2 separate regions of the Homo sapiens genome follow, and region 2 is linked to region 1. Evidence: fine-mapped expression QTL. A gene starts in region 1. The other region holds a variant in brackets. All regions are shown on one strand. Distances are between the middles of the regions.

Region 1 (5,372 bases):
CAAACTGCTGAGATTTCAGGCACGAGCCACCATACCCAGTCCTAAGTTAAAATTTTATCAAGACAATTATTTTCTTATGGCCTTTAAAAAAACACAATATACCTCCATCCCCACTCCCTTGCTCTCTGCTGCTTGACAGTGGAATGGTTTTGTCTAAAACAAAACCTAGATAATTTACTCAGACTCATCCATATCTTTTCCAGTTCATGGATCCTATGTATAATAGGAATCTGAGCATTGTTTTAGGTCTTTACTTAAACAGAAATCCTTTTTCAAGACCTACTCTGGATGCTTTTTAGAACAAGCCTCATCTCTCTTCTTCAAGACCTCAAATGTGTGCTATGACTATACAGTGTAGTCATATTGATGAGCGAACCACAGAATGTTCAAACTATGAGGACACAGGATATCTTCCAGTTCACTCCCCTCACTTTAAGAGTACAGTGTTAGGACACCTGCCTGAAGTCATGCAGCTGCCTAGTTATCTTTCCAAATTGCCCCGCTGTCTTTAGTTTGTGTAATAATAAACCCCAAACTAAAATTCAACAAAAGCACTCACCCTTGCTAAATAAATCATGTCTATTCCTACCACTGAAGGGGAAAAGGTAACAAAGTTTGGTAGAAGTTGGGCTAGATCCTTCAGCACTGGCTTATTTAGAAATTTCAGAGGACTAGGTGAGGTGGCTAAGGCCTGTAATCCTAGCACTTTGGGAGGCCGAGGCAGGTGGATGACTTCAGCCCAGAGTTCAAGACGAGCCTGTACTTCCAGCTACTCGGGAGGGTGAGGTGGGAGGATGGCTTGAGCCTAGGATGTTGAGGCTGCAGTGAGCCGAGATTGCGCCACTGCACTCTGGCCTGGACAACAAACTGAGACCCTGGAAGAAAAGAAAAGAAAAGAAAGGAAAAGAAAAGAAAAGAAAAGAAAAGAGAAAAAAAGATCAGAGAACCTTTCTTACTGGAAGTCAACGTTGCCACGACAGGATTAAAGCAAGAAGAAACATTATGGGCCTCCTATCTCGTCCTTAATGTTCAAAACGCAGGGTATAGCAAAGCATATAGGAAGAGGTCGTCCTCACTCGTGAACTCAGCATCGGGTTCTACGTTTATTCTGCTTTGGTTCTTCTTAATCTGACCTCTATAGACTTCGCCACGATCCAAGGTGTAATTCCAACAGGCAAAAGAAGTCTAAGGATTGTCGAAAAGGTGGCTCCCTTCAGACAGACCAAGCCCAATTCATGGCAGCGTTCCCAGCCCCAGTTTGAAGCTCAGTAAGGTGGTCTCTTGCCTTTCTGAATTCTGAAAAAAGAGTGGTATTGGAATCTCTTCTTACCGGAACCCAGGAGAGGGCGAGCTGTGGTGCAGTCCTCATAAAGGGGAGAACTGTAGTTTTCAGAGTTCTAATGAACATCCCAATGGGCCTAAAAGGCTTCAATAAGAGATGAAAGGTTCCGGGTGAGAGTGGGCGTGGGCGAAGCTGATCCCTCTAGGTCGGACTAAGGCAGAGCCAGATCCAAGAGGGAGAATCCAACTGTAAAAGGGATCTGGGGAAGAAAGAGCTCTGTTGGGGGTGCAGCCGGATGAAGAACACCGGTGCTGCTCAGTGCAGCCCCTACCCATCCATGGCAAACAAAGGCAGCTGCCTCCCTTCCAGCCTTTTAGTTTGAATGAAGGCTCAGTATTACCTTTTAGGATCCACCCTTCCCTTCTCACGCACCCAATGAGGCCGGAGCCTCTTCCTGCCGGGAGGTGCTGAACTCTCCCAGGAAACGGACAGGTGCCGCGAGCCAATGGAGGGAGCTGCGGCGGGCCAGTGGGCGGGAAGAGTGGGTCGACCTGGGTTTGAGAATGACAGAGCCCGCAATGGGGGAGGGCACGGTGCGACGGCGGCGCAGGGGGTGAGAGGGACCTGCGAGACGGCCAGCTAGGCTGCCCCAACCACGGCGGAGGAACCGGGGACTGGGCGGCCGCAGCCAATGGGAAGGCAGCGGGCGCGGGGCGGGGCGGGCGTGGGGCGGAGCCCCCTGGGGTCCGCAGGGCTGGGGCGGAGCCAGGCCCGCGTCAGGTGGTCCCGGCGAGCTGGCGGTGCGGGGGGCGGGGCACGGCACGGCGCGGAGAGGAGAGCGGCGGCCGGCTGGCAGCGGCGGGCACCGGCTGCGCGAGCAGGTACCGGCGGCAGAGGTGACGAGGCCGCCCCCGGGGGGGCGAGCGGGCAGGCGGGGACTCGGCCCGCTGCGCCCCTAGGCTGCGCGAAGAGCTCGCGCTCGGCGCTCTTCTCGTACCGCGGTAACAGCGCCGGCGAGCCGGCTCTCCCAGCCCTGCCAGCCCGGGCCCTACCTGCGGCCGCCGTCGTTGGGGGGGGGTCCTCCCAGCTCTGCGGAGGCGCATGAACAATAGGCGGCGGCGGCTCCTGCGGGCGGCGGCGGCCCCGCACCCTATGGATCGGCCGCTCCATGGAGCCCTCCAGAGCGCTTCTCGGCTGCCTAGCGAGCGCCGCCGCTGCCGCCCCGCCGGGGGAGGATGGAGCAGGGGCCGGGGCCGAGGAGGAGGAGGAGGAGGAGGAGGAGGCGGCGGCGGCGGTGGGCCCCGGGGAGCTGGGCTGCGACGCGCCGCTGCCCTACTGGACGGCCGTGTTCGAGTACGAGGCGGCGGGCGAGGACGAGCTGACCCTGCGGCTGGGCGACGTGGTGGAGGTGCTGTCCAAGGACTCGCAGGTGTCCGGCGACGAGGGCTGGTGGACCGGGCAGCTGAACCAGCGGGTGGGCATCTTCCCCAGCAACTACGTGACCCCGCGCAGCGCCTTCTCCAGCCGCTGCCAGCCCGGCGGCGAGGACCCCAGTTGCTACCCGCCCATTCAGTGTAAGGCGAAGGCGGGGCCGGGCGGGGAGGGGGAATGACGGAGGCCTGGGGGGCGGTCGGGGAAGGGGGGAGCACTGCGCGAGGGCTGGGATGAGGGCGGGGGGTGGGGAGGACGATTGACCTGGGTGTGGGTGGCGCGCGCTTAGGCTGCCCGGGCTTTGCTTGCTGGATAAGCTCGAGACGCCTCAGGCCCTGCCCGCACTTCAGACGCTTGGGCTTCTTCACCTTCAGTTGGCCACCTCAGCAGTGGCTCCCGATTTCCACATCCTGAAGTCCCAGTCTGAGAATTTGCCAGTTTCCCAGTCCCTTCTCTTACCCACCCCCCCGCCGCCCCCCATTCCCAATCTGGAAGTGTTTATGGCAAGATGGTGGTTAGTGTCCTAGCCTTAGTCCCCAAATCAGGGACCTTGCCACCACCTCTTCTAACGCCTGTCCCCGCCTCCTAAAGGCATTTGCTTTCAAAGAGATGGGGGTGTCTCCGCAGGGCTGAGCTGGCTCACAAGTCCCGGAAGCATGTGTGAACTCAAGGCTCAGTTGCCTGTAAAATGTCGGGTTGATTTCTTGGATCCTATTTCTTATATCTCAGAAGTTGTACCTTTAGGAGTCTCACTGATTAATGTGCTAAGAGGGATGTGTGTGTTGAGAGTGGGGGTGAGACAAGTGATGATTAGAGAGGAAAAAGTATGTCGTTCCCCCATGGGAGATCAGGATTGCAAGGTACAGTGGCTGAATCCCAGTCCTTTGACAGTGAGGCTGTTTGGGAAATACATTTTCTTCTTTCTTCTCATTCTAGATCCTTGCCTATCTTTGGAACTGGTCAAATCTCAGGGGGACCATGCTCAGGGGTCCCTCCCAGGGCCTTTCTCCCAGTGTCCTGGTTTCCGTCAATTTTCCAGGAGCCCCATATTTCATACCCTATAATGAAATCTTCTTTTTTTTTCAAGGGAGTTAAATTGCCATCACAATCCCTTAATCATACTAGTTTATTTCAGAAAAAAACATGTAAATATCTCTTTAGTGCAGTTTACACTATTTTGTATTTGAGAGTTTCCATAATCTCTTATCTGTTAAAAAGGTATTGTTAATATGTATTAATTACTGTTTATTCCTTATTTTGTATACTTTCATCTTAGTTGATTTTTTAAAACGTCATTAGCAAGGACCAACTTTAAATATTTAAATATTAAGATTTCCTTTGTAACAGTTACGTTTTTGGCTCTGTAAGTTATTTTTTACCCCAGCAATTGTGTTACTTTAATCTTGAGTTTTTTTGTTTTTTTGAGACAGTCTCGTTGTCTCCCAGGTTGGAGTTCAGTGGTGCAATCTCAGCTCACTGCAACCTCTGCCTCCCGGGTTCAAGCAATTCTCCTGCCTCAGCCTCCTGAGTAGCTGGGATTACAGGCGCCCGCCACCATGCCTGGCTAATTTTTGCATTTTTAGTAGAGATGAGGTTCACCATATTGGCCAAACTGGTCTCGAACTCCTGACCTCAAGTGATCCGCACGCCTCGGCCTTCCAAAGTGTTGGATTACAGGCGTGAGCCACCGTGTCTGGCCTATCTTTAGATGTTTTTTAAAAACTAGCACATAATATCAAAATCATAGCCTCTTCGCTTGTTTTTCTGCTCTTCTTTTTCTGTTGGTGTTTTGACTATCAAATCGATGTTCAAATCTTTAGGTTCCCCCTCTCCCTCTCATTCAGTTTAAAACTTCATTTTTCTTCATTTTGATCTTTAAAATGCCTGGAGGTAGCAAATTACTTTAAATTGTTTCCAGATACTACATCTTTTTGGGACTAGTTTGGTAGCCTTAAGGCTAAGCATCCTGGCATAGTGTTTTGAAAGTGTTGAAAATGAACTTGGTCATATATTGGAAGAAATATGAATAGCCTGGCATGTTAGAAAACAGTGTCATTTTAAACATAAGTCAGATTTTGATTCTGTGGGTGAAGTTTTGTGATTTTGTTTTCAGGGACAGCTAATGTCAAAGCAGAAGAGCTAGGTGAGGTTCGTGATCAGGAACTCGGTTTCTTCAATATCTTGTGCTCTGGCTGCTAGAGCAGTCAAGAGTCAGTATGACTTAGGCTGAAAAACTGTCCACAGAGCTAGGCATGGCAACAGCGTGCTACTTTTTCATTTGGTGGCCAGGACTTATCTTCATTGTCATACAAGTTATCTTGGATAGAGTGGATTCCTAAATCTGGAACCCAGATGTTGAGAAAGTAGGAAGTAACTTGTTCTAATGGAAAGAATTAACTTGAAGAATATGGCATTTGAAAGACCTGACACGTTCTTTTATTTGGCCTCACTAGGAGTTCTGATCTTGACTAGAATTAATTTTTGATAATTCAGAAAATTTAGTTTCAGTCAAAAACTAATTATTGAGTACCTAGTGAGTGATAGATACTGTACACTGTGTTAAGTACCAGGACATAAAGAAGTGATAAGATCAGAAGTTGCTTATAAGTTACATGAGGGAGATTAAGTATGTAAATATAAAACTTCAGTGCAGTGCCTT
Region 2 (5,372 bases), 34 kb before region 1:
TGTCCTAGTTTCTACATTGGATAAATTCTTTGTTTCAGCCAGCTCTCAATGAAAAGACTATGACTACAGCACCATTGCTTCAGACAAGCAGCATTGGAATAGTCCAGCTTGTTCACTTCTTCTTTAAGAGACAGAGTCTCACTCTGTTACCCATGCTGGAGTGCAGTGGTGTAATCATGGCTCACTGCAGCCTCACTCTCCTAGGTTCAAGTGATCCTCCTCCTCAGCTTCACAAGTAGCTGGAACCACAAGTGCACCCGACCGTGTCTGGCTAATATTTCATTTTTTTGTAGCACAAGTTCTCCCTATGTTGCCCAGGCTAGTCTCTAACTCCTGGCCTCAAGCCATCCTCCTGCCTCAGCCTCTCAAAGTGCTGGGATTACAGGCCACTGTGCTGGTCTCTTGCTCATTTTTTTACACTTCCTCATGTGTTTCCTCATCAGCTTCTTTAAGTATCATAATTTCTTTCATGTCTCCAAAAATCATATTTAAATATTTATCATAAGCCTGGTCCATGCTGCCAATGTCTAAACCTTCTAATATTTTCCTTTCCTTTCTTTTCTATCCCCTCTTCCTCAGGAGCCTGGCTTCATTATACCACTGGCCATTGTGTTTAAATTAAGGACAAAAGACACAAGTTGGCCACTCTGGTAAAGATGAGAAGAAGCAAGAGGGAGAAGGAGGCAGAGACGTGATAATTCTTCATCTCACATTCGTATATAATGTCAGTGGTTCTTGGGAACTTTAAGCAGCTTTTCCTTGTTACCCAACTAGAAGGTAGCAGACCTAGAAGTTGAGCCTGGGTCAGTGAGGCTCCAAACCCCCTGCTGTTTCCATTACATCACACTACTTTCCATAGCAGCAAAATCCCATTAAACACAGGTATTGGGTAAAAATGATGGGCTGACTTTGTGTGAATAGATGGAATCATGAAGAGTTCACTAAATAGGTCTGCATGTGTGACTTTGGAAAGAAGGCAGACTAAATGAAGGAACTTTCTTCAGATCATCAACACTGTGAATGACAAAGCTTTGCTCTGTATCATGCTGGAAGTTTTGGGACCATGCTAGATGTTTTGAGAACACACGAAACATCCTATAAGACTGCACTCAAGGGACTTATAGTCTAGGTGAAGGAAAAAATCAGGCGTAGAGCACACACAAACTAGATAATTAAGGTGAGTTTAAGGGACTAATTTATTTATAAAGATGTGGGTGGGCCAGGCACAGTGGCTCACGCCTATAATCCCAGCACTTTGGGAGGCTGAGGTGGGTGGATCACAAGGTCAGGAGTTTGAGACCAGCCTGGCCAATATGGTGAAACCCCCTCTCTACTAAAAATACAAAAAATTAGCCAGGCGTGGTGGCTGGTGCCAGCACTCGGGAGACTGAGGCAGGAGAATCACTTGAACCTGGGAGGTGGAGGTTGCAGTGAGCCGAGATCACACCACTGTACTCCAGCCTGGGCGACAGAGCAAGACTCCATCACACACACACACACACACACACACACACACACACAAAGATGTGGGTGAGGTTTAGGGAATTGGAAGAGAAAAATGCAGTACCCTGGGTTCTAGCAACAGTAGGGTTTGGTTACCCATGCCTCCAAAACATGCAGGGGAAAGGGGAAGGAACAGAGCATAGCTGCATGAAGAGGGAGGGACACACCCCTCTTTCAGGAGCTGTGATCTTCAGTAAAGGGAAGCAACCAACCCATGGTGACCCATCAGGGAGGGAGCCATAGTAATAAATACCCCAATCTCAACTTCTCCGCTCTTCAATCTCCTGGTGATTCTTCCTGTTAGCTAACCCCAACCAGAAGCTAGAGGGCGAGCATTGATTCCATCTGAAAAGACCAGTCCCGTAGTTACAGCAAGAAATGAGAAGAGGTAGAAATGAATCTGAAAGGGCAATTTTATAAACTTTAATTTGTAAGATAAATTAAAAGGTAGCTTTATAAATTGATACACCATTTAAGTGTATTGTGAAGGTTGCAAATTACAAGAGTATTCCTGTAAATCATTTTGTGAAACATACCTTCATGCATTTTCAATTCACTGTATCCTTTATTTTATTTTTTAATAGATGGAGCCTCGCTCTGTTGCTCAGAGTAGAGTACAGTGTCTGTTCACAGGTGTAATTACGGTTAACTGCAGCCTTAAACTCCTGGGCCCAAGGAATCCTCCCACCTCAGTCTTCCAAGTAGCTAGGACTACAGGTATGTGCCACTATGCCTGGCCACAGCATCATTTTAATATATCCTGATGTTCTCTTATGGGTTAGTTTCATGTAAAAATTGCCCAAATTAAATGTTGAGATAGACTGGCTTCCTGGCTTACCCAAAGTGAGCCAGGGTAAGCTCACTTACCTTTAGCCAGAGGTGAGCTAAAACCTGAATTGAGCACATTTCAGTTGCATTGTATAGGCAATGTTTTTGCTCATTTTTTTTCCATTGCATAACTTTATTCCACTCTCTGAGATGTTTCTCCATGCCCTTTTCCATCATTTTTTCATATCTCCCTTGCTTCCATTTTTACTCTCTCCTTCTTTCCTCCAATAAAAAGGGCTTCTTGGCTCACACCTCCATCAACAGACGCTTGGAAATAACGCACCATGGCAGGTTTTCAAATATTTTTTCTTTCCTCCCTCCAGAGAGAAAAACAAAAGGGTAAAGATGGCTTGAGGGATTGGATCAGAACATTGTTTTACTGGAATTTGCAGCTGTTTCTGGATTGCAGAAGTCACTGGAGGGAAACAATGTGCTCAGGGACTGAAGGAAATGGTTTGGCTCCAATCTGTCCCAAGTCATCAGGGGAGGAATTTTTTCATTGTTACAAAGGTTGTTACTCCATAAAGATTTTGCATCTCTCTACAGAGAGTGTGTGTCTGAGGAGAGGCATGGGAAATTCACATAGGATGGGAGCAAAAAAAGGCCAAGGTAAAATGCTAGTGAAAGGCAAAGGCAGAAAATAACTGACCTTTGGTCAGGACACAGTCCATTTTCTGGGTTCTGGCCTAGACATGCAGCTCATGAAAGATTCAGACTTTATTTCTTATAGTCTAAGAGCTAGGTGAGCCAATGAGA[G/T]TTTCCTTTTTTACCAAGCAGGCAAAATGAAGATGGGCTTTATATAGACAGGTGGATCCAGTAATAAATGAATGAGAGACTCATTTGGCTTCTCATTGATGAAAAGCTGGATTTATGTGCTTAAGTACTGCTGGCTCTGTATCTATAGGGAACAAATAAATCTGTACACACCTTTGCACTTCTATGTATGCATTACTGGTACTGTTTGAAGAGGCCTCTGGAACTGTGTGTTTTCCTTCCAGGGTGCTCTTCCTTCCATGCATCCTGTCATCTCTATGGAAGGAGCCTGTAGAACACCTGCAGTTAGGCAGAGATCAGGCTAGGTGGGCAACTGTGGTCTCCTACCCACCTACCAACACTCATTCCCGCTCCTCTTGGTAGATGTTCCTGTTTACTTTTAGGTTCACATATATTCTTCTTTCTTTTTTTTTTTTTTTTTAAGAAAGTTAGTGTATGGATTGAAAGCTGTCCCTACCAAAAGATGTTGACATACCAACCCCCAGTACCTATGAAGGTGGCTTTATTTGAAAATGGGGTCTTTTCAGATGATCAAGTTAAGATGAGGTCACTAGGGCAGGCTGTAACTCAGTGTGACTGATGTCCTTTTAAAAAGAGGAAATTTGGCCGGGTGCGGTGGCTCACGCCTGTAATCCCAACACGTTGGGAGGCCGAGGTGGGCGGATCACGAGGTCAGGAGATCGAGACCATCCTGGTTAACATGGTAAAACCCCATCTCTACTAAAAAAAATACAAAAAAATTAGCCGGGTGTGGTGGTGGGCTACTCAGGAGGCTGAGGCAGGAGAATTGCTTGAACCCGGGAGGCGGAGGTTGCAGTGAGCCAAGATTGCGCCACTGCACTCCAGCCTGGGGGACAGAGCGAGACTCCGTCTCAAAAAAAAAAAAAAAAAGAGGAAATTTAGACAGAGACAGACATGCATGGAGAGAGTACAATGTGAAAACATAGGGAAAAGACAGTCATCTACAAACCAAGGAATACCTGAGGCTACAGAAGCAAGGAGAGAGACGAGGAACAGATTCTCCCTCACAGTCCTCAGAAGGGACCAACCCCACCAACACTTTGATTTCAGACTTTCAGCCTCCAGAACTGTGAAGCACATTTCTGTTGTTTAAGCCACCAGTTTGTGGTACTGTGTTTTGGCAGTATACAGTTAAGTTTGATAAAAATCTTCTGGTACAATCTTGTTTCTCCCAATGACGAAACTGAAGTTCAACAAATAAAATGACTTACGCAGTTGTGGATGCGGTTGGTGGACAGGACTCTAAATTCCCAGATCATTCCTCTATCCATTGCTATAACTGGTGTGATTTGGATAAATCACAATATCAGGCTTCTACCATTGGGTCCAGAGGATGGAGCAGTGTCACTCCTATCTTGTAATATACACACTACTAGACTTTAACAGTTTAAGACAAGACTTTGGCATTATTAATGTGGAGTGGGTATGCTTCTCCTGTACTTTCAGTGTTAATGGGCTTTGCTTACGCTCACCGGCTCATCTTTTTGGTTTTTTGTTTGTTTGTTTGTTTGTTTAGAGAGAGTCTAGCTGTGTCACCCAGGCTGGAGTGCAGTGGCACGATCTCGGCTCACTGCAACCTCCGCCTCCCGGGTTCAAGCAATTCTCTGTCTCAGCCTCCCGAGTAGCTGGGACTATAGGCGCACGCCACCATGCCTGGCTAATTTTTGTATTTTTAGTAGAGACAGGGTTTTGCCATGTTGGCCAGACTGGTCTTGAACTCTTGATCTAAGGTGATCCACCCACTTCAGCCTCCCAAAGTGCTGAGATTACAAACTCGAGCCACTGCGCCCAGCCTCACTGGCTCATCTTTTAAAAAGCCATAGGAGCTTGAAGAGATTGCTAGCTAGGTTACATAGCCAAGTTACACCTTATATGTAAAAAGAGCTGGGGCACTTATTGGGAAAGTCAAGGACAATTTCATCTACATCTGGTCACTTCTCTTACAAAAATCTGAAGTTCTGATAAAGCTATTGGAGCTCCCTGGGCCAGGCAAAGTTGTGACAGGTGAGAGGTGCAGAGTGTGTCCTACTTGCAAGCTGTTGGTGACAGAGAGCTTCTCTGCTCCTCTGTCTTCACAGCTATAAAATAACTGGTTGCCATCTTTAGAGAAGGAAAGAACTTAGTCTGCCTGCCTGCTATGGTTTGAATGTTTGTCCTCTCCAAAACTCATGTGGAAATTCAATTGCCAATGTAATGATATTGGGAGGTGGAGCCTTTAAGAGGTAATTAGGCCATGGGTGGGCTTA

Alleles and levels. Positions count from the first base shown, and alleles are read on the strand shown. Sizes are in standard deviations (SD) of each study's normalised expression.
As copies of G replace T in region 2, the expression in prefrontal cortex of the gene that starts at base 2,838 in region 1 goes up (small effect, 0.38 SD a copy in BrainSeq).

The links. PIP is the estimated chance that this variant, and not a neighbour inherited with it, causes the effect.
Region 2: its variant is the best candidate, but not a certain one, in a credible set for the expression of MAP3K9-DT in prefrontal cortex (BrainSeq, PIP 0.56).

What each region holds. Positions count from the first base shown.
Region 1 is chr14:70,806,250-70,811,621 of GRCh38, reverse strand. MAP3K9-DT (MAP3K9 divergent transcript) reads right to left here and starts at 2,838. Exons shown (of 2, transcript NR_184164.1): 1 at 2,335-2,838. It overlaps MAP3K9 (mitogen-activated protein kinase kinase kinase 9), which reads left to right and starts at 2,109. Exons shown (of 12, transcript NM_001284230.2): 1 at 2,109-2,856. The coding sequence starts at 2,451. RefSeq lists a silencer at 1,908-2,547 and an enhancer at 3,488-3,547.
Region 2 is chr14:70,840,662-70,846,033 of GRCh38, reverse strand. No RefSeq gene overlaps it. Among named protein-coding and RNA genes, the nearest start is that of MAP3K9, 34 kb to the right of the region's middle. The variant G/T (reference allele first, on the strand shown) is at 3,088.